Homo sapiens: one gene and its partners. The protein of the gene in region 3 interacts with the protein of the main gene of each other region in a biochemical or structural test. Each region holds a gene or a part of one and is shown on either strand. Other genes may lie near its edges.

Region 1 (5,153 bases), on a different chromosome or scaffold from region 3:
AAAGTCAGCTGGTTAGCAACTTTCATCCATCTACAACTGCAATTCCTATTTACCATGTAAAGTAAGATATTTATAGGTTCTGGGGAGTAGGATGTGGACATCTTTGTGGGGCTATTATTCTGTTTCTCACAGCAGCCAAAATGAGGTTATGCACAGCGACAGTGTTTTCAGTGCTGTAGCCAAGAATATTCTAGATTCCATGAAGCCACCATAACTTTTACCTTTAAAGTATAACTCATAGTGATATAAAGCTGGTTGGTTTTTTGGTTTTGTTTGTTTGTTTGTTTGTTTGTTTTATTTGAGATGGAATCTTGCTCTGTCACCCAAGCTGGAATGCAGTGGCGCAATCTCAGCTCACCACAACCTCCACCTCCTGGTTTCAAGCAATTCTCCTGCCTCAGCCTCCTGAGTAGCTGGGATTATAGGCTCCCACCACCACGCCCACCTAACTTTTGTATTTTTAGTAGAGACTGGGTTTCGTCATGTTGGCCAGGCTGGTCTTGATCTCCTGACCTCAGATGATCTGCCTGCCTTGGCTTCCCAAAGTGCTGGGATTACAGGCGTGAGCCACCGCGCCTGGCCTAAAGCTATATTTTTTATTAGTTGTATTTCAAATTGCATAGTATGGTGGTAAAGAACATGCACTCCAATGCAGCACTCTGTGCTCTTACCAGCTGTGTGATCTTATACAGGTTAACACCTGTATTATGTCAGTTTACTCATCAGTGTTGGTGATAATCCCAATAAGAGTGCTTACCTCATAGAGGTTTAGGGAGAATTACATGTATAACACACTTAGTAAACTGAAGAAGCCATTGAAGCCTTTTGACATTGAATATCAGTTTGATTTGCATTTTAAAGAGAATGCATTGGATGGAGTATGGTGAATGGAAGGATTGGGGTGGGGGGAGTCAAACTGGGGAGACCAGTTAGAAGTTATTGGAGTAGTCCAGGCAATTGCTTGTGTAAGTACTTATTTTATATAGTTTATTGATAAATATACTCACATAATTACACATACACATATAACCACTGACAATTGCTTTTTACAGTTGTCACCTAATGATGCGATGTGTTCTGAGAAATGTGTCGTTAGGTGATTTTGTTATTGTGTGATCATAGAGTGTACTTACAGAAACCTAGATGGTAGAGCCTGCTGCACACCAAGGCTATATGGTGTAGCCTATTGCTCCTAGGCTACAAACCTATACAGCATGTTACTGTACTGGATACTGTAGGCAACGGTAAACAGTTGTAAGTATTTGTGTACCTAAACATATCTAAACATGGAAAAGGTACAGTAAAAACAGCACAAAAGATAAATGGTACACCTGTGTAGAAACATATCATGAGTGGAGCTTGCAGGACTAGAAGTTGCTCTGAGTGAGTCAGTGAGTGAGTGGTGAGTGAATGTGAAGGCCTGGGACATTACTGTATACTACTGTAGACTTTATCAACACTGTACACTTAGGCTACACTAAATTTATAAAACAATAAAGTTCTTGTGTTACAGCAGTACGGGCGTTATAGCATCACTAGATGATAAGAATTTTTCAGCTCCATTATAATCTGTGGGACCACTGATATGGTTCATTGTTGACCAAAATGTCATTATGCAGTGCATGACTGCATTTGAAATGTAGTTAATTAAATCTGATCAGGAATTTAAGAAAAATGGCTCTTTGGTTTTTAAGGAAAAAATTTTTTAATCATGTGTGCTGTGTTTTCAACTTTCTGTTCAGTTCCCAACCTATAAACATGAAACAGTAGCTCTTTTGGTTACTATGTATACCTTCTTTCAATGTTATTCTCTCTCCCACACGTAAGTTTATTTTCAGTATTTGTTTCCAGTGTTTCCAGAGTTTCCCTGAGTTGTCACCCTTAGAATGGTCATTTTACTTGATTTGATATTCAGAAGAGTGGCCTTCTAAGTTCCAAAGTGTGTGAGTGTATGCATGCATCGGGTGTGGGGGGAAAGAGAGAGAGAGAGAAGGAGAGAGAGAGAGAGAGGGAGGATGGATGGATGTGTGCTCAGATAAATGCCTGCTGACAGCAACACAAAACCCTACTCTATGAATCTTCAGGCCAGTGAATGGGTAGGAAATGCTCTCCAGTTTGAATTGTTCCTACATTTTATGAGCAGAGAAGCAAATCCTGTGAAAGTATTTCAAGAGCTGCCCTCTTAGCTGTCCATTGTCTTGGCTCAGAAAGTCCTAAGGAAGAATCCTTGTAAACTTAACAGACAGGAATTTTGGTTTTTACTGGAGAGCTCTGCTTTTCTTTATCGCATGTCATCAGCATCAAATTTTTATTTGTTTTGTTGGGTTTTCTGTTTTGTTGTAGTTGTCAAAATTTTCTACTGGGATAATTTAGGACGGGCTTGTCTTTATATTTGTAAGGAGTAAAAATGCATAACCTGGTCTGTCTTCTTTATGCTAGGTTTGTCCAATTTGCTTGCTTTCATTTTGTCAATGCAGTCACCTGCTGTTTTTACTCTTCGCTTTCTTCACATTGTGAAACTTCCTAAATACATACTATGGACAAAACCAAAGATAAAAATGAATGAATTGTTAAACACATTTTCTTATATGTCTAACTAAAAATAATATATGCTTAGGGTAAATTCAAACAGAGCAGTAAGTTTACAAAACAAGAAATAAGTCTCCTTTCCAGCCTTCCTGACTCCTTTGCTTCTCAGATAGACCATCCTTAAGTTTCCTGCAAATGGTTTCAGGAAATTAGAAAAGAAATAGTTCCAGTATATATAAGCATACTCTTATAATTTCTTTAGAAATAAAGATCACAATTTATTATGCTTACTGCTGTATACCTTCCAGAAAATCAAATCATATTATATATAGTGTTGTGCACCTTGCTCCAAAAAGTTATTTATGTTAGTAATTAAGGTACAACCTAAAGCTCAGTCTACAAGCAGGACAGAAGATAACATCTTATAGAGGCCTTTAAAATTGTTGCACCAAAATGCAGTGGGAGCTATTTTCTAACTAGAACCACCAAAAATAATGGAACAAAATGATTAGTAAAACAAAGGGAAATAAACTTCCAAACCAGTAACCAAATATGGAAAGGGAAAAATTCCAAGCAAGATCCAGTTAAAAAGTCCAAAGGAGAACGTGTGTGCACCCAGAGAGGACAGAGACACTAGCACCAGCTAAGATTCACAGACAAGTGCAAAGGGGTGCTATTTTTAAAGGAGACCAAAGAGGAAATAATGACCACAAATAAAAAGGGAACATGTCAAACTTCTGGGCAAGTGCTAAATTTGAAAAGAGAGAATGGTGTTTATGTTTTTTAAAAAATGCACTAGAGGGCTGGGCGCTGTGACTCACGCCTGTAATCCCAGCACTTTGGGAGGCCAAGACGGGTGGATCACCTGAGGTCAGGAGTTTGAAACCAGCCTAGCCAACGTGGTGAAACCCTGTATCTACTAAAAGTACAAAAAGTAGCTGGGCATGGTGGCATGCACCTGTAGTCCCAGCTACTCAGGAGGCTGAGGCATGAGAATCACTTGAACGTGGGAGGCGGAGGTTGCAATGAGCTGAGATTGTGCCACTGCACTCCAGCCTGGGCAACACAGCAAGATTCTGTCTCAAAAAAAAAAATTCACTAGATGCATTTTCAAATAGGAATGGATTTTGATCAGAAGCAGAACTGACACAATGGAATAAACAATAACTCAAGTATGCATTTGTCCAATAACTGAAACATGCAGCCATCTATGTCATAAAACATTAAAATTGTACCTAAGCATATTGGAGACATGAGATTATTGTACTGTCCATATAGTGCTTTTGGATCCAGAACAAGTCAGGTTCTTTTGTGCCGTGTGTTTGTGTGTGTGTGTGTGTGTGTGTGTGTAAACGAGTGAACATCTATGCCATTTTATCTAGATACAGTACTTCTTCCCAACCTCCATTCATCTCTGTTGTTGTTGCTATTGTTCCTCATATGGCCAAATGCAATTTCTCCCTGAAGGTCTAACTCCAAAATTCCTTGCGCCTTCTCTTAATTCTTTCCAACTCATCAATTCCTCAAAGCTGATGTCTACTGTATATTATACTCTGGTGCTTTTGGTATATTCTTTATTCTCTTATGGCACTTACTGAGCTGTACTGTTACAATTTTTCCATGTATATCTCTCTGTATTGTGAGCTTGCTGGAGGCAGAGACAACACATCTTTAGGTCGTTGGTACCTAGAGTACTGCCTGGCACATTTAATACTTGATTAAGTAGAATTACATAAGCTGGAATTTAATGTTTATTTGTTTTGTAGCTTCATAAAATTATATAACTTTTTAGCAATAAAAACCTCAAGACATATGTAAAATTAATAGTCTCAAATGAATGCATAATATTACTGCTCCTAAAACTCCCTCCTCCTCTTTTTAACAGTGGCCTCCCTAAGATATAAGGAAATATAAAGACTGGTCTGCCTTATAGGATTTTAAGAAATTTTCCAGATTTCCTGATGCCTCCTTATATCCTAAAAGCACATAAGTTCCTCTTGAATTAGTAAGCATTGATTAAAAACTCAGATGAGTCAAACAATACACCCCTCAAAAGTTGCTTAATCTAGACTAGAACAAAGCACGTATTAGTGTGTTCTCACGCTGCTGTAAAGGACTGCCCAAGACTGGGTAATTTACAAAGGAAAGAGGTTTAATTGACTCTCAGTTTCGCATGGCTGGGGAGGCCTCAGGAAACTTACAATCATGGCAGAAGGGGAAGCAAACACATTCTTCTTTACTTGATGGCCGGAAGCAGAAGTGCCGAGCAAAAGCGGGGAAAGCCCTTTATAAAATCATCAGATCTCATAAGAGCTCATTCACTATCATGAGAAAAGAAAGCATGGAGGTAACCACTTCCATGATTCAATTACCTGCCACCGTGTCTCTCCCACAACATGTGGGGATTATGGGAACTACAATTCAAGATGAGATTTGGGTGGCGACACAACCAAACCGTATTAGCATGTTAGTTGTAAAAGTTCTACTCTCTGGAGCAGGGAATCTCCAGACTTTCCCCTCATGGCCTAATCTCTTTGTTACTCAATTGATATAATAGCAATCTATATCCCATAATGAGCAAAAGTTTATTAAGAGAGATGAGACAATAGAGACTGTTTTAGTCT
Region 2 (5,153 bases), on a different chromosome or scaffold from region 3:
GACCTAGTCAATGGCATGATCCCAGCTGGGACTGCCTGTGCTGTTACAGCAAATCTCTACCTGTGACCCAGCATGAAAGGGAATTTGGAGGCCAGGGAAAGTGGCTTTAAATTATGAGGCTTCTTTTTCAACATTTACAGAAACAACCATCATTTATATGTACATCAAGCTTAACTTCATATAAATTGTGTATCTAGTCAAAAGTATCCAAGGCAAAAATATTCAATCTTCAGGCTTTTCATAGACCTAGAACTCTTTATGTGGGCATATAACTGTACTATAACCTTATACTTTTATTTATTTTTAGGGCTTGTAGAAACAGGAGCTATTATTGGTCCTTTGATTGGACTTTTGTTGGCATCATTCTGTGCAAATGTTTATGTTGACACTGGATTTGTGAACACAGGTAATTCAATAAAATCTATTTGTACAGTGTCTAGACTATACAAAGCATCTCAGGTATGTTATCATATATAATCATGGCCTTACTTGACCTTCAATTTGATAAATGATCTCTACTTTAAAAGTGAGAAACTCTAGTGGAGGAATTTAAATAACTTTTAAAATATTCCAAACCAGAAAGCAGTAGTGCAAAATAAAATGCTAATCTGACACAGAATCACATGCTATTTCTAGTGCACTTCAACTATATTTCTTGGTTTTACAAAATTTAAGCATGTAGGTTTGAATTTATTTCAATTAAGCAATCATTTGTTGATGATGAAATAGAACTTTAAGCAATCATTTGTTGATGATGAAATAGAACTTGTAGCTGTTTAGTTAATACCTGCTTTTAAATCCCTTACATGATAGACAGATAACCAGCCTAATTTATTACTAGACAATATTACAACACCACATATTATTAGAAAAATTTTATCAGTGTCTGAATTATAAGCCAATTTTATAGTTGGTTGGGACCCGATAATTCTAATTTTAATAATTTTCTATAGTTCATACAGAAAATACTGACTTAAGCTAATAACAGTGTGTGTATTTTTTTACAGATGATCTGATCATAACTCCCACTGACACTCGTTGGGTCGGTGCATGGTGGTTTGGCTTTCTGATTTGTGCAGGAGTTAACGTGCTCACTGCCATTCCTTTTTTCTTTTTGCCCAACACACTTCCAAAGGAAGGACTAGAGACTAATGCTGACATCATTAAAAATGAAAATGAAGACAAACAAAAAGAAGAGGTCAAGAAGGAAAAATATGGAATCACTAAAGGCAAATATACATATTCTAAATACTATGAAATTGACCTTTTATTTCATATAGATATGTCTGTATTTTAGTCTAACACTATGATATGCTATGCTGTGTTGAGACAATTTGTCATCAACAGTCACCAGTCAAGAATACCTAACTAGTCCGATTCTTCCTATGGTACTACTTGAAAATAAATATTATAATTTGGAAGCTGAAATATTTCAGATCAGCATTTGTGTAAACTTTTATGTCAGTCTTGGCACTCTCCTCTCTCTCTCTCTTTCATATATATATACACACACATATATATGTACACACACATATATATATACACACATATATACACATATATATGTACACACACATATATCTACACACATATATACACATATATATGTACACACACACATATATATATGAGAGAGAGGAGAGAGAGGGTCATGTATATATATACACACACGTATATATATATATACACGTATATATATATACACACACGTATATATATATACACGTATATATATACACATATATGTGTGTGTATATGTGTGTGTGTATATATATACGTGTGTGTGTATATATATATATATATATACACACGTATATATATGGTCCCATTTGCTCAAAAAACCGATTTTACAGAGAACATAGGTTGAATTGAAACAAAATGAACAAGCAAATTTAAACTAAGAACAAAAGTAGGAAAAAGTATACTCTAATCTTAATAGGTAGTATAGTTTTGTAACCAGTGTGTTAGTTTAACGAAGAGCTTCCTGGAAGTTAAATCAGAAAGAAAAAAAAAAACATGATCGGTGACCCACCTCTCTATACTTGGTAGAGGGAAGAATAATAATTTTTAAACAGAAGCAGTTCTCCAAGGAAGAAATTGTAAAAAAATTTAAAAATGATCATAAGATACATGATACAGGTAATATTGAGCCACATAGTGGTTTTCCAGCAAATGAAAGGGTAAATTGCATGTAACATTTTTTTTGGTACAGAACCTCAATAAAAGCTCAAAGTATAATTTACAGAAGGTTTTTCTGTGGGAAACTAAACTAAGATAGCCTAAGTATTTAGTACTCAAGAGCACTGATGCTCAAACTTGGCTGCACATTGGAATCACCTAGGAAATTTTAAAAATGATTGATGCCTGAAAGTTCTGTAGTATTCCCAAAAGGTCAGATTTAATTAGTGTGGATGTGCAGCCTGGCTATTGGAACTTAAAAATGTTTATTTGACGGATGGTGAGGGTCTCAGTTTTCTGTCAAATGGGGATAATAATAGTACTTACTATAGAATTGTTGTGTGAAGGTAAAAGACATTCTAGCACACATTATTATTAATACTGATACTAGTGTTAGTACTTTTATGTTGTCATTGTTGTTTCTATCATCACCCATAAGTTACAATGTCAATTTGCATAGAATTTTTCTTAACAATTGTAAATTCTCTTAAATCATAATTGAGCATAATTTAATACATCTTTGGTCATTAGGAGCCAACTCAGAATCTTGCAAATTCTCAGAATCATTCTGATGATATTAAAAACTCTTCTTAAAGGATTGTTATGGACTGATAGACCTCTTGCAGTCTGCAAGATCAGTTCCATTTTCAAAATTAGGAAAGAGCTTAGCTTGTTGCAAGACATAGAAAAGAAACTTGTGCTACTGAAACTCATCTATTAGGACAGGGATGTCAACAAACATGGGTGACTTAAAAATCTTCAGATAACTCTCTCTCCTGTCAGGTACCCTATTCATAAATATAAATTTTACAATTATAACTCATTTACTTGCATTAATCTGTGTGTCCTCCTCTTCTAAATTGTTTATTTATTGAAATTTTGTTCCAGAATGAATTGTGAGCAGTTTATTAAGCAAACCAAGATTGTGCATAAGAAAGTCAAGACAGAGAACATGTGGACAGGAAAAGTGAAAGGAAATTAAAAGTGAGAACTTGAGCCTGAATGGTAGCAGTGTGACCAAGAACATTTACTAGAAGCAGGCCACACATTACTAGAGGCAGGCCACACATTACTAGAAGCAGGCCAAACATTACTAGAGGCAGGCCACACATTTGGCTCTGTGCTTTTTCTAACAGGAATCATTTTTGATTAAATCATTTACATAGTCCTTAGAATGTACCAAATGAATCAGCATCTCTGAGGATGGGACCTGGATGTTGGTATTTTAAAAAATATCTCCAGGTAGATCTTGCTGAGAACCAATGGCAGAACCACTGAAACTGTTGTTCTGAAGAAGCAAAAAAAAATTCCGGATACTTGAGAACATTCATATCTCATTAATTCCCACACATCTTTATTTCAAATGTTCAGGGAGTGATAAAATAAATATTTGTGTGAAATCTTCTTTATCAACTCGATTTTCCTCCAGACTTTACAGAACAGAACAAGCATCTTTCATTCTAATGAGCTGTAGAAAAAAGAATATATTAATAGAAGAACAAAAGGTTAGTAATAAAATGCTGTGGACGTAGACAATATTTTGGTCACTTTGTAGTTTTGCTTACTGATCTTTAAGACTCAACAGTGACTTATTGAGGGCAAAACTGTTGTGTTCTGATCCCTACCCAGTCAGCTACATCACTGACTTCCAGAAGCCACCAAAACATTGCTATGACTTCAGCTTTCAAGGGGAAAAAAGAATTAGCAAACAATACATATTACAAAATAGTAAAAAACATAATTTGTTGAGGAGGTGGATGTTTCAGGAAAAGCCAGTCACAAAATGCAAAGCCAAGTTCGTTTGACACAGTTGTCATTCTTTCATTTCAGATTTTCTACCTTTCATGAAAAGTCTTTCCTGCAATCCAATTTATATGCTTTTCATACTTGTAAGTGTGATACAGTTCAATGCATTCGTTAACATGATCTCCTTCATGCCTAAATACCTAGAACAGCAATATGGAATATCATCTTCAGATGCAATCTTTCTAATGGGTATGTTTGTTTTTCTCTGCCTTACTAGCACACTTTCCCCCCCACGAACAGTGTGATGGCGGGTGTAGCAAACTCCTAAGTTGAAGTGTTTTAGGATATTTTTTGACTCTGGTGGATTTCTTCCTTCTAATCTCAAGAAAGAAAGAAAGAAAGAGAAAGAAAGAAAGAAAGAAGGAAGGAAAGAAGGAAGGAAAGAAGGAAAGAAAGAAAGGGTAGGGAAGGGAAGAGGTCAGAAATACCTTGATTTTCTTCTCTCTGAAGTCAGAATGTGAATTCATAATATGAATGCAAATATTTGGGAGTGCAAAAATTACATATTTTCAGATAGGATTGTGCATTTTACTACCAAATTTTACTCTTTTTGGTTCCAGTTCAAGGATTCTATGTTCCTCCTAATTTAATTTTTTGGTCCCCCTAGTGGTTTTAGGTGTCTCTGCAGCCACACACATTCGGCTTTTCCTGCAACCACACTAACCTCAGTGGTTTTAGCCTAACTTGGGTTTTTCCTGGGATCTTTCCACTGTTTTTAAAAGTCAATATCCCAGGCTACTTGTATCCACACTACCTAAAGTGCTTGTGAAAGCTTCAAATACCTGGGGTTCCCCCTCAGACACACTGAATCAGACTCTAGGGCGTGGGGCTCTGGAATGGATTTTTAACAAGCTCTCTCAATAATATGATTCGGGGAGCCAGATGCTCACATTGTATAGATGGAACCTAGGGCTATCTTCTCCTTTTTCTATTCTTTTTTTTCACTTATTGGGAAGGGTTCAGAGAGGAAGAGCCAGTAGCAGCAAGACATGAAATGTAAATACACTTGACAGCAACAGGCTCAGCAAAGTGACTCTCTAAAGTACCTTGAACTGGGTGTGGTGGCTCATGCCTTTAATTCCAGCACTTTGGGATGCTGAGGAGTGAGGATCACTTGAGGCCAGGAGTTCAAGACCAGCCTGGACAACATAGCAAGACTTTGTCTCTGC
Region 3 (5,153 bases):
CTAAAACAGAAAAGAATGTTTATGCCAATGTATGGATTTAAAAGACCTACAGCTACATACATATAATATAAACCAATTGCAAAATTCATGGTAAAATTGTTATAGGATCTTGATAATTAAAGAGAAAGTCTTCAAATACATTATCCAATATTGATTGCTTTCATTGAACCACTTGGGTTAACACAGTCTTTTCTAATTTTAGGCGTGGGGGTGAGGGGGGATGTGTGTGTGTTAGTTTAAAACTCCTAGAGTTTTTGGCCGGGCGCGGCGGCTCACGCCTGTAATCCCAGCACTTTGGGAGGCCGAGGCGGGCAGATCACCTGAGGTCAGGAGTTCGAGACCAGCCTGACCAACGTGGAGAAACCCTATCTTTACTAAAAATACAAAATTAGCTGGGCATGATGGCACATGCCTGTAATCCCAGCTACTTGGGAGGCTGAGGCAGGAGAACCGCTTGAACCCGGGAGTTGGAGGCTGCAGTGAGCTGAGATCATGCCATTGCACTCCAGACTAGGCAACAAGAGCGAAACTCCGTCTCAAAAAAAAAAAAAAAAAAAAAAACTCTCAGAGTTTTTAACTATTTATTTCTTTTCACTGGATTCAGATATTCAGATATAATTTGTAGACTCTTTTATTTAGAGTATTTCCTAAGCTCCGAACCTTTAATTTAACCTTTAGAAGCTTTAACTTCTTGTGTTTTTAAGGTCAAAGCAAATATATTTATCTCCTTTACTATCACTGTTGTTTATTTTCTTGGAAGGATTTAGTTTTATCTAAAGCTCTTTTTGACTCACATTAAATTTATTATTTTTTTACAAAGTTGAGTTAGTGAATTTTTCATCAGTGAAATAGTAACAGTAGTTTTACCTTTGCATTTATAATTTTTAATTTTAAGATGTAATTATTTTAAAAATAAAATATACTGTATTCAGTATTGTAGTTGGTGGAACAAAAAAAGTAGCATGTTTTTAATAGTAACAAATTACCTAATACGTAGATAGATGATAGACAGATCTGCTCATTAAAGCATTAATCTTTAACAGATTTAATAATTCTTAGATTCTAAATAAAGGAGTAGCACATAGCATCACAAATGAAGATTTTTAGATTTGATTATCTATAAAATATAATATTGATTATATAGCCCATTTGTATTTTGTTTTACATTTAGCAAACTCACTTTTAAGACTTTATAATTTGACACTTTTTTTTAACTAAATCTTGCCATAAAGTACCTCTTTCCATATCTTTGCCATTTTCTCAGGAAAGTTCTAGTAATGTATATGTTGTTTATGAAGAATTAGATTAGCATCAATTATCTTTACACATTTTTCATCTGTGCCTTCACTTTCTAATAGGTGGTCAAGAAGAATACGTCTTATCTTATGAACCAGTGAATCAACAAGAAGGTTTGTGAAGCCTATTGATGTTTTATAACCTTCTAGAAGAATATACTTTTTAATTTGGGGGAAAAAAATTCTCATACCCCAAAAAATGTTGTATTAAAATTTTTTTTTACTACATATACATGTAGAAATTTACTACATGTGTTTTATGAAACATAGTTTACTCCACAGAATATTAGAATCTAGTCATTTCATACTGACTTTTATATTTGTGTTTTATTTCCCAAGCAACTTTGTTCCAGTGTTCTTGTTAGCATCACTATCTTCCAAATAACCCTTTTTTGAAAATCTTGGAAGTATCTTTGAGCCTTCTCTGTTCCTCCTCCTCCTCCTCATCCAGTTAGGTTCCAGGCACTGTTTATCCCACTTCTTTCTTATTTATGACCTTCTTTTCATCCCTTCTATCACAATGTTAGTTCTCAGTCTCACTACCAATCTCCATTATTCCAGCATGATCCCAGACCACCCAGAGTTTACACTTCTGTTAGATCATCTTTCTAGAATGCTACTACTGGGATTATATCACTTCCTACATCCAGTTTCTGTTCTGCCCTTCTTTGCTCTGCTTCCTTACAATTTCTACTTCAAAGCCATCTGTAAAACACTAGACTTTATTCTGTCATTTGCAATGTAAAGAAACATTATCTGCGAAAACACCAAATTTAACTTGATTGAATTATCAATATGACTTCTAGCAGAAGACTAAGTAAAGTTTAAGATCTGAGTCAAGATTATAAAAGAGCAAGTTACGCATCTTTGGTTGATGGTAGAGTGAGATGGAGAGGGAAGAAAAAAATTAGTCATAACAGTTAAGGATATTTTTGTTCGCTGGTGAAATAAAATACATTGATATTTGTTGAATGTTTATTCCTTTTAACATGCAGTTTATCTTTATAGTTAATTATACTCGACCAGTGATCATATTGGGACCTATGAAAGACAGGATAAATGATGACTTGATCTCAGAATTTCCTGACAAATTTGGATCCTGTGTTCCTCGTAAGTAAACCAAACAAAAACATTTAATTGTTACTCTTAACATTTCCTGTCACTGTGTGTGGGAAAAATAGATATAACCATTTTTTAATGGTTTGTACTTATTTTATCAGTTACTCTTCCATCCTCCATATTATTGTCCTTTCTCAGATTTAAATTAATCTGTTCTGTTGAACTTTACAAAACGATGTAAGTAGAAAATGGATTTATTGTGGTTTTTTTTTTAATATTAAACACTTTCCCAAGTTTTTTTCTGTTAAAGATACAACTAGACCAAAACGAGATTATGAGGTAGATGGAAGAGATTATCATTTTGTGACTTCAAGAGAGCAGATGGAAAAAGATATCCAGGAACATAAATTCATTGAAGCTGGCCAGTATAACAATCATCTATATGGAACAAGTGTTCAGTCTGTACGAGAAGTAGCAGAAAAGGTAAGCATCAGACTAATCCCAGAATATAGCTTCTAATCAGATATGCCTTTGACAGTATGCAAGACTGGTAGGATAGATACAGCACTAATTAGTTTTGTTAATGTGATGAATTTGCTTACCTAAATAATTAATTTTCCATGGCTTAGGAAAGTGCATACAAGATAAAACAGGTAAATAAGGTAAACAAAGAAAGTGAAAATAGAAATGATAACATGAATGTAAGAGAAGTTATTTTCAGGTCATTTGCTAGAGATAGACCTTTTGTTTAGGCCTAGCTCTCCAGCATATATTAAAAGGAGATAAGGGCCGGGTGTGGCAGTGCACCCTTACAGTCCTAGCTACTGAGAAGGCTGAGTTGAGAGAATCACTGAAGCCTGGGAGTTTGAGGCTGCAGTGAGCTATGAGCATGCCACTGAACTCCAGCCTGGGCAACAGAACAAGACCCTGGCTCTTAAAAAAAGAAAAAAAAAGAAAGATCAATAAATCTAACCACTTAAAATTTTTAAAAAACTTTTTTTATGGCCAAAGACTTTTTCCAAAAACTATTGGAAAACACCATTAACAATGTCAAAAGACAACTGACAGAAAAAATTTGCAAGAAAAGGGCTAATATTCCCAATATATAAAGAACTCATAAAAACAGGGAACAGAGACCAGAAACCCAATAGAAAAAAACAGTGGACAAAAGATCAGAATATATAGTTCACACAAAAATAAGATATAAAATGGCCTTTGTACATAGGAAATGACGTTCAACTGTAGTCATTATTAAAGAAATGTAAAGGCCGGGTGCGGTGGCTCACGCCTGTAATCCCAGCGCTTTGGGAGGCCAAGGCAGGCGGATCACCTGAGGTTAGGAGTTCAAGACCAGCCTGGCCAACATGGTGAAACCCCGTCTCTACTAAACATACAAAAATTAGCCAGGCTTGGCAGTGCATGCCTTAATCCCAGCTTCTCAGGAGGCTGAGGCAGGAGAATTGCTTGTACCTGGGAGGTGGAGGTTGCAGTGAGCCGAGGTCGTGCCGTTGCACTCCAACCTGGGTGACAAGAGTGAAACTCTGCCTCAAAAAAAAAAAAAAATAAGGCCAGGCACAGTGGAAGGCTGAGGTGGGTAGATCACCTGAGGTCAGGAGTTCAAGACCAGCCTGGCCAACATGGCAAAACCCCATCTCTACCAAAAATACAAAAATTAACTTGGCGTGGTGGTGCATGCCTGTAATCCTGGCTAAGGAGGCTGAGGCAGGAGAATCGCTTGAACCCAGGAGATTGCAGTGAGCCAAAACCATGCCACTGCACTCCAGCCTGAGCAACAGAGCAAGACTCCATCTCAAAAAAAAAAAAAAAAAATGTAAATTAAGAAGACTACTCTAAATTCAATTTCTCCCCTATCAGATTCAGGGAGAAATATGAAGACATTTTCTTGGTGAGACTGAGAGAAAACAGTTGTGCATTGCTGGTGGAAATGCAAACTGGTACTGCCTTTTGGAAGGGTATTTGGCAATATCTAGCAGCTTTCCTTCAACCCAGCATCCCACTTCTAGGAATTTATTCCAAAGATATACCCCAACAGTATGAAAATACATGGGCAAAAGGGTATTTATTCATTGTAGCATTGTTTATAATTGTGAAATACTGAAAATCATCTAAATGCCCAGATAAAAGTGATTGAATTAATTTTACATTCACAAAATGAAGTTCTCTAAAACTGTTAATAAGGTATTTGAACTGATACACAACATGCAAAAGAATATCTACGGTATAAAATAAGAGAAAATGGGAAAATACAAATCTCTGCTCAGTTGTGTGAAAATAAGCACAGGAAAGGTAAATCAGAACTTAATGAGGTTGGTTACCTACAGAGGGAGTGATGTAGAGAGGGAATTTGGAATGGGATGGAAAGGATGAGGGGTATGACATTTCTCTGAGTATACATTTTTGTATTATTTTAACTTTTAGAAAGTATGTTAGTATTTTACATATTTAAAAAAATCAAAAATAAAAGCAACAAAGAAAGATGGGGGAAAAGCAAAATGATACATAAGTAGAAACTAAATAAACCTGACTGTATTTCTTTTTTTTTTTTTATACTTTAAGTTTTAGGGTACAATAAACCTGCCTGTATTTCAAATGAATAACTTAACTACATTGAAGAGGGGAGAAGTCTTAATCCCAGAGATTCTTTAACACAAGCTGAAGACAGATCTGTAAACAAAATAAAACTCTAATTAGTAGGTTTGTTGGGTGGAGTGTATGGGCTTACAGTTCTGAAACTAATATATATTCTAGGGTTGAGCAAATAAACTAATACAATGGCAG
Region 4 (5,153 bases), on a different chromosome or scaffold from region 3:
TTCTTGAATGTGTAGTTGTATTGGTGTGGTGTGGATAGTAGGCAAATGGTTATGTAGGGGAATGTGTGGAGAAAATTGGCACCATTATATCTACATAGATGGAAACTAAAATTGCTTCTACTTTGTCTTCTGTTATTTTTGTGGGGTTTTTTTTTTTCATCCTTTCCCCTACTACCCCCACCATATGTTCCCTTTTTTTGTAGTTTGATCAGTGCTCTTTTCTTGTTCAGGTTACACACTTATTCCATCAGCTAAATCTGACAACTTGTCTGACTCCAGCCATAGTGAGATTTCTTCACGGTCCAGCATCGTGAGCAATTGTTCTGTTGACTCCATGTCTGCAGCTCTACAGGATGAACGGTGTTCCTCTCAGGCCCTGGCAGTCCCTGAATCCACTGGGGCATTGGAAAAGACAGAGCACGCTTCAGGGATAGGAGATCATAGTCAACATGGCCCTGGGTAAGCATCATTGTCTGTGTTCATAACACAAAACCCAAGCCAAGTGGCCACTGCAAGGAGTGCTCCCCACCTTGACCTTGGACCTCCCATGGGGTAATTGCAGAGTTATCCATAAAAGAATATGTGGGCCAAGCACATATTCTCTATTCTGAATATGTAAATAAGCACTATGTTGAAAGATGTATGGGTGTTCATTTTTAAAGTGTTACTAAATTCAAGTAACTTTTTATCATTATGTATCTTTCCAGTCAGAACTCAAAGTGCATCTGCTACTTATATAGGGGAGATAATTTTTGAAATTCTGGCTATAGGTTAATCAAAAAGGTTGTGTTTTGGAAAGTGCCTCGAGTGCTGTGCACATTGTAGACAGGTTGGGAGAGTAGGACTAGCCCTTGATCTCTGTCCTCTGAAAGTGTAATTTGGGGAGTAAGAATAATCACCTAGCAAAGGTTAATTAAAAAAAAAAATCAACTCTAAATTTCTATTTAGAATCAAGCAACGTGGAAATCTTTGAGAAAGTTTATTCTAACTGATAAATATTGTGAAATCTGGTCTACTTTAATATGAAAAATTTAAGATAAATTATTACCACATTTATAAAGATTTCTAAACTAGGATCTCTACACCAGAGGTCAGCAAATGTTTTCTATAAAAGTTACATAGTAAACATTTTAGACTTCACAGGCCATAAGGCCTCTGTCACAACTACTCTGCTATTACACCAGAATAGCCATAGACAACACATAAACAAATGGCATGACTGTGTCCCAGTAAAACTTTTTTTTTTTTTTAAGGCGGAGTCTCGCTCTGTGAGACAGAGTGTCACTCTTGTTGCCCAGGCTGGAGTGCACTGGCGCGATCTCGGCTCACTGCAAGCTCCGCCTCCTGGGTTCACGCTGTTCTCCTGCCTCAGCCTCCCGAGTAGCTGGGACTACAGGCGCCCACCACCACGCCCGGCTAATTTTTTGTATTTTTAGTAGAGACAGGGTTTCACCATGTTAGCCAGGATGGTCTCGATCTCCTGACCTCGTGATCCGCCCGCCTCGGCCTCCCAAAGTGCTGGGATTACAGGCGTGAGCCACCACGCCCAGCCAAAACTTTATTTACAAAAACGAGCAAAGAGACCACCAGATTTGGCCCTGGGCTGTAGTTTGCTACCCCCTGCACTATACTGTAAATGAGGGGTTTACAAACTTTTTTTTGTGAAGGGCTGGGTAGTAAATATTTTCGCCTCTGCAATCTACATATAGTCTCTGTCACAAATTCTTCTGGTTTGGTTTTGTTTTCTTTTCTTTTTTAACCTTTTAAAAGGTTAAAAAACAGAACTATTCTTTGCTCCAGACCATACAAAAATAGGCTGTTGGCTAAATTTGGCCCATGAGCTTTAGTTTGGGGACCCCTGCTATAAATTATTCATTTCATGGGTAATTGGGGAAGTTGCTGTTTACTTGGCACTGTACTGGGCTAACCTCAGAGGTACGTTGAAAAATAAAACATGATTCTTCAAGTTGGGAACTCTTAATTCTGTATGCATGGACGCAGTAGTCTAATATTGTGATGACCAAAAATGAATATGTATACTTAACCTTATTCATTTCAACTCTCATCTTTACATTTTCATTTAAAATCAGTTCAAGAAAAATACTTGCCAGGCATACCTCTGGTCCATCCCAGCTGCTGGGGAGGCTGAGGCGGGAGGATCACTTGAGCCCAGGAGTTAAAAGCTGCAGTGCATCATGATCGTGCCTGTAAATAACCACTGCACTCTGGTCTGGGCAACAGAGTGACACCCTGTCTCGAAAAAAAAAAAAATATCTAACATTTTAAAATTTAAAAAGAAAAATTCTAAGGAAATTTTGCTAAGCATTAGAGTTTCTTTACTGTGTCTTCTGAGTGTTAACTAAATACTTACAAGGAATATAGTGATGAATGATGATAATATTGTTTTCCTCACGATGTTATTTGGCATGAACACTTGTGGTACGTGCTCTGTAGTTTCTCACAGGCAATAATAACTTGAAACAGAGAGAAGATAGTTTTTCTGGCAAGCCTTCTAATTGTACGTTATCTCCAATTTTAGGTGGACACTCTTGAAGCCATCTCTAATCAAGTGTTTAGCTGTCTCATCGTCTGTGAGCAATGAAGAGATTTCTCAAGAGCATATCATTATAGAAGCAGCTGACAGTGGTCGTGGAAGTTGGACTTCGTGTTCAAGCAGCTCCCATGACAACTTCCAAAGCCTTCCAAACCCAAAAAGCTGGGATTTTTTGAACTCTTACAGACATACCCATTTGGATGACCCCATTGCTGAAGTTGAACCCACTGACTCTGAGCCCTATTCCTGTTCTAAAAGCTGCTCTAGAACTTGTGGGCAGTGTAAAGGAAGCCTAGAGAGAAAGAGTTGGACCTCCTCCAGTTCTCTGTCTGACACGTATGAACCAAACTATGGGACAGTTAAACAGAGAGTATTGGAGAGCACCCCAGCTGAGTCATCTGAAGGCTTGGACCCCAAGGATGCCACTGACCCAGTTTATAAAACTGTCACTTCAAGTACAGAAAAGGGCTTGATTGGTAAGTTGTGTTTTTGTTGTCTGTGGCATTTAGAGATTAAGTAGTCAAAAAATGGCATTGGGATATCTTGGCCCTGGATTTTATCGTCGCAAAAATTCATTCTCTAACAACCTTTCTTTCCTTCACAAACAAACAAGTTATTTCCCAAAAATTCATGGTTTCTCAAAGACTTTGGAGCAGCTATTCAACCCCATTAAAATGAAAAGTCTGATGTGAAGGTATTTAATTAGAGGGACAAGTTTGTTTGTCTTTTGTTTTTAAGTTCTTTTTGGTTTTATTGAGGAATATCATCGCATTAGTGTGCAATAGTAGTAAAGGGATTATTCTCTTTATCACCTCATAAATTGTTTGGACCACAATTGGTATGCATACGTGGTAGAAACATTGAATCTGCTATTGATTTTAGGTCGTAACAGTGAGAGAAAATGCAATCAGGAAGTCCAGAACATTTTTCAGTATACTCTCTTGGTGTACATCATGAGTGTGCCAACTCCTGTTTGTGAATTCCATTCCAAGCTTTCTTAGTAAACTTTTTTTTTTAGTATTTGGCCATCAAATACTTTTTAAAAATTTCTTTCCTAAACTATATAAATACGTGGATATAAAACTGCTTTTCTACTTATATGGAATGACTCTACTTTGAATTAATATCATAATCAACTGTTAAATTTATGCAACAGTCATGGTGTCGCATTTAACTACTAAAAATGTGAAGGTGAAATGTGCTGATTTTATAGTTACTTGTCAAATTGCATTATAGGTTGGGTTTTTAGCTCATTCATTTTTTTCCAACTTTTTTTTTTTTTTTTGAGATGGACTCTTGCTGTATTGCCCAGGCTGGAGTGCAGTGGCATGACCTCGGCTCACTGCAACCTTCGCCTGCCAGGTTCAAGCAATTCTCCTCTCTCAGCCTCCCAAGTAGCTGGGATTACAGGTGCCTGCCACCATGCCCAGCTAATTTTTTTATTTTTAGTAGAGATGGGGCTTCATGTTGGCCAGGCTGGTCTCAAACTTCTCACCTCAGGTGATCCACCCACTTCGGCCTCCAAAGTGCTGGGATTACAGGCGTGAACCACCGCACCTGGCCAGAAGTAAAGTTCTTGAAGGAATTAGTTCCTCCGTACCAGCAAAGTTAAAGTTTATATGCTAGGACTGAGAACTAATCTGCCCAGGAGTGCCAGAAAACATTGGTTCATGTCTCAGAGAGAAGGTGAAACAGCCCTTAAACAGATGGCCCAAATGTCATTTCTATGTAAAGTCTCCCAGTTTACAGAGAATCGGTGTGTAGGGTGAACTTTTAAATGTTTCTGATATCTTTAGGGCTGGTGTGACTTCAGGAGTTGTCATGTACTTCTGTGATATGGGGGCTGAATTGCAGAAGGAAGCTTGTCATCAGTGTCATCTCCTTCAACTCTCTCGTTCTATTTAATGTTTACAGGACTTAATATAGTTGTTTATGTATTTTAAAAAGAGGTTTGTTTATTAAACTTTTAAAAAATGTTTTTGATCTGCCATCATTCAAGTTTATTCATTTTGTCTATTTTTAAGTTGTATTTTGTCATTGTAATAAGTTTGTGGGGTGGTTTCTTTTTTTTTCCATTTCTTTTTCATTAACATTTTCATTGCTTATTTTTCATGCCAGTGTACTGTGTCACCTCACCCAAGAAGGACGATAGGTATAGGGAGCCACCTCCCACTCCTCCAGGATATTTGGGGATTTCTTTAGCGGACCTAAAGGAAGGACCCCACACACACCTAAAACCTCCAGATTATAGTGTGGCAGTGCAGAGGTCAAAGATGATGCATAACAGCCTCTCTAGACTGCCACCAGCTTCTCTCAGTAGCAACCTCGTGGCCTGTGTTCCATCGAAGATTGTAACTCAGCCTCAGAGGCATAATTTGCAGCCATTCCATCCTAAACTAGGAGATGTGACTGATGCAGATAGCGAAGCAGATGGTATGTTGACAAGCTCTCTTAAAGGCTCTTAAATGAATTGCTGAACACATTAAATGGTCTTTACTTTGGTATTTTATGGTAATTAGTAATTGTTTCTTTAAATGCCTTGAATCTCTGTTAAAAAGTAAGAAGTTCCTGCCGGCAGGGTGCAGTGGCTCACACCTGT

Evidence for each region. The genes of interacting proteins can lie anywhere in the genome.
Region 1: the proteins of DLG1 (region 3) and JAM2 interact in a test that uses a peptide from one of them, tested with the Homo sapiens proteins (one large-scale study listed by IntAct).
Region 2: the proteins of DLG1 (region 3) and SLCO1A2 interact in a test that uses a peptide from one of them, tested with the Homo sapiens proteins (one large-scale study listed by IntAct).
Region 4: the proteins of DLG1 (region 3) and RAPGEF6 interact in a test that uses a peptide from one of them, tested with the Homo sapiens proteins (one large-scale study listed by IntAct).

Annotation. Positions count from the first base shown.
Region 1 is NC_000021.9:25,644,599-25,649,751, forward strand, and holds part of JAM2 (junctional adhesion molecule B isoform 1 precursor), read left to right. Parts: exon of another isoform or gene 1-2,534; intron 2,535-5,153. UniProt on the Homo sapiens protein: Junctional adhesion protein that mediates heterotypic cell-cell interactions with its cognate receptor JAM3 to regulate different cellular processes. Plays a role in homing and mobilization of hematopoietic stem and progenitor cells within the bone marrow.
Region 2 is NC_000012.12:21,296,424-21,301,576, reverse strand, and holds part of SLCO1A2 (solute carrier organic anion transporter family member 1A2), read left to right. Parts: intron 1-307; coding exon 308-406; intron 407-1,007; coding exon 1,008-1,229; intron 1,230-4,008; coding exon 4,009-4,173; intron 4,174-5,153. UniProt on the Homo sapiens protein: Na(+)-independent transporter that mediates the cellular uptake of a broad range of organic anions such as the endogenous bile salts cholate and deoxycholate, either in their unconjugated or conjugated forms (taurocholate and glycocholate), at the plasmam membrane.
Region 3 is NC_000003.12:197,062,960-197,068,112, reverse strand, and holds part of DLG1 (disks large homolog 1), read left to right. Parts: intron 1-1,358; coding exon 1,359-1,409; intron 1,410-2,303; coding exon 2,304-2,405; intron 2,406-2,648; coding exon of another isoform or gene 2,649-2,662; exon of another isoform or gene 2,663-2,664; coding exon 2,665-2,837; intron 2,838-5,153. UniProt on the Homo sapiens protein: Essential multidomain scaffolding protein required for normal development. Recruits channels, receptors and signaling molecules to discrete plasma membrane domains in polarized cells.
Region 4 is NC_000005.10:131,428,736-131,433,888, reverse strand, and holds part of RAPGEF6 (rap guanine nucleotide exchange factor 6), read left to right. Parts: intron 1-230; coding exon 231-459; intron 460-2,539; coding exon 2,540-3,030; intron 3,031-4,672; coding exon 4,673-4,987; intron 4,988-5,153. UniProt on the Homo sapiens protein: Guanine nucleotide exchange factor (GEF) for Rap1A, Rap2A and M-Ras GTPases. Does not interact with cAMP.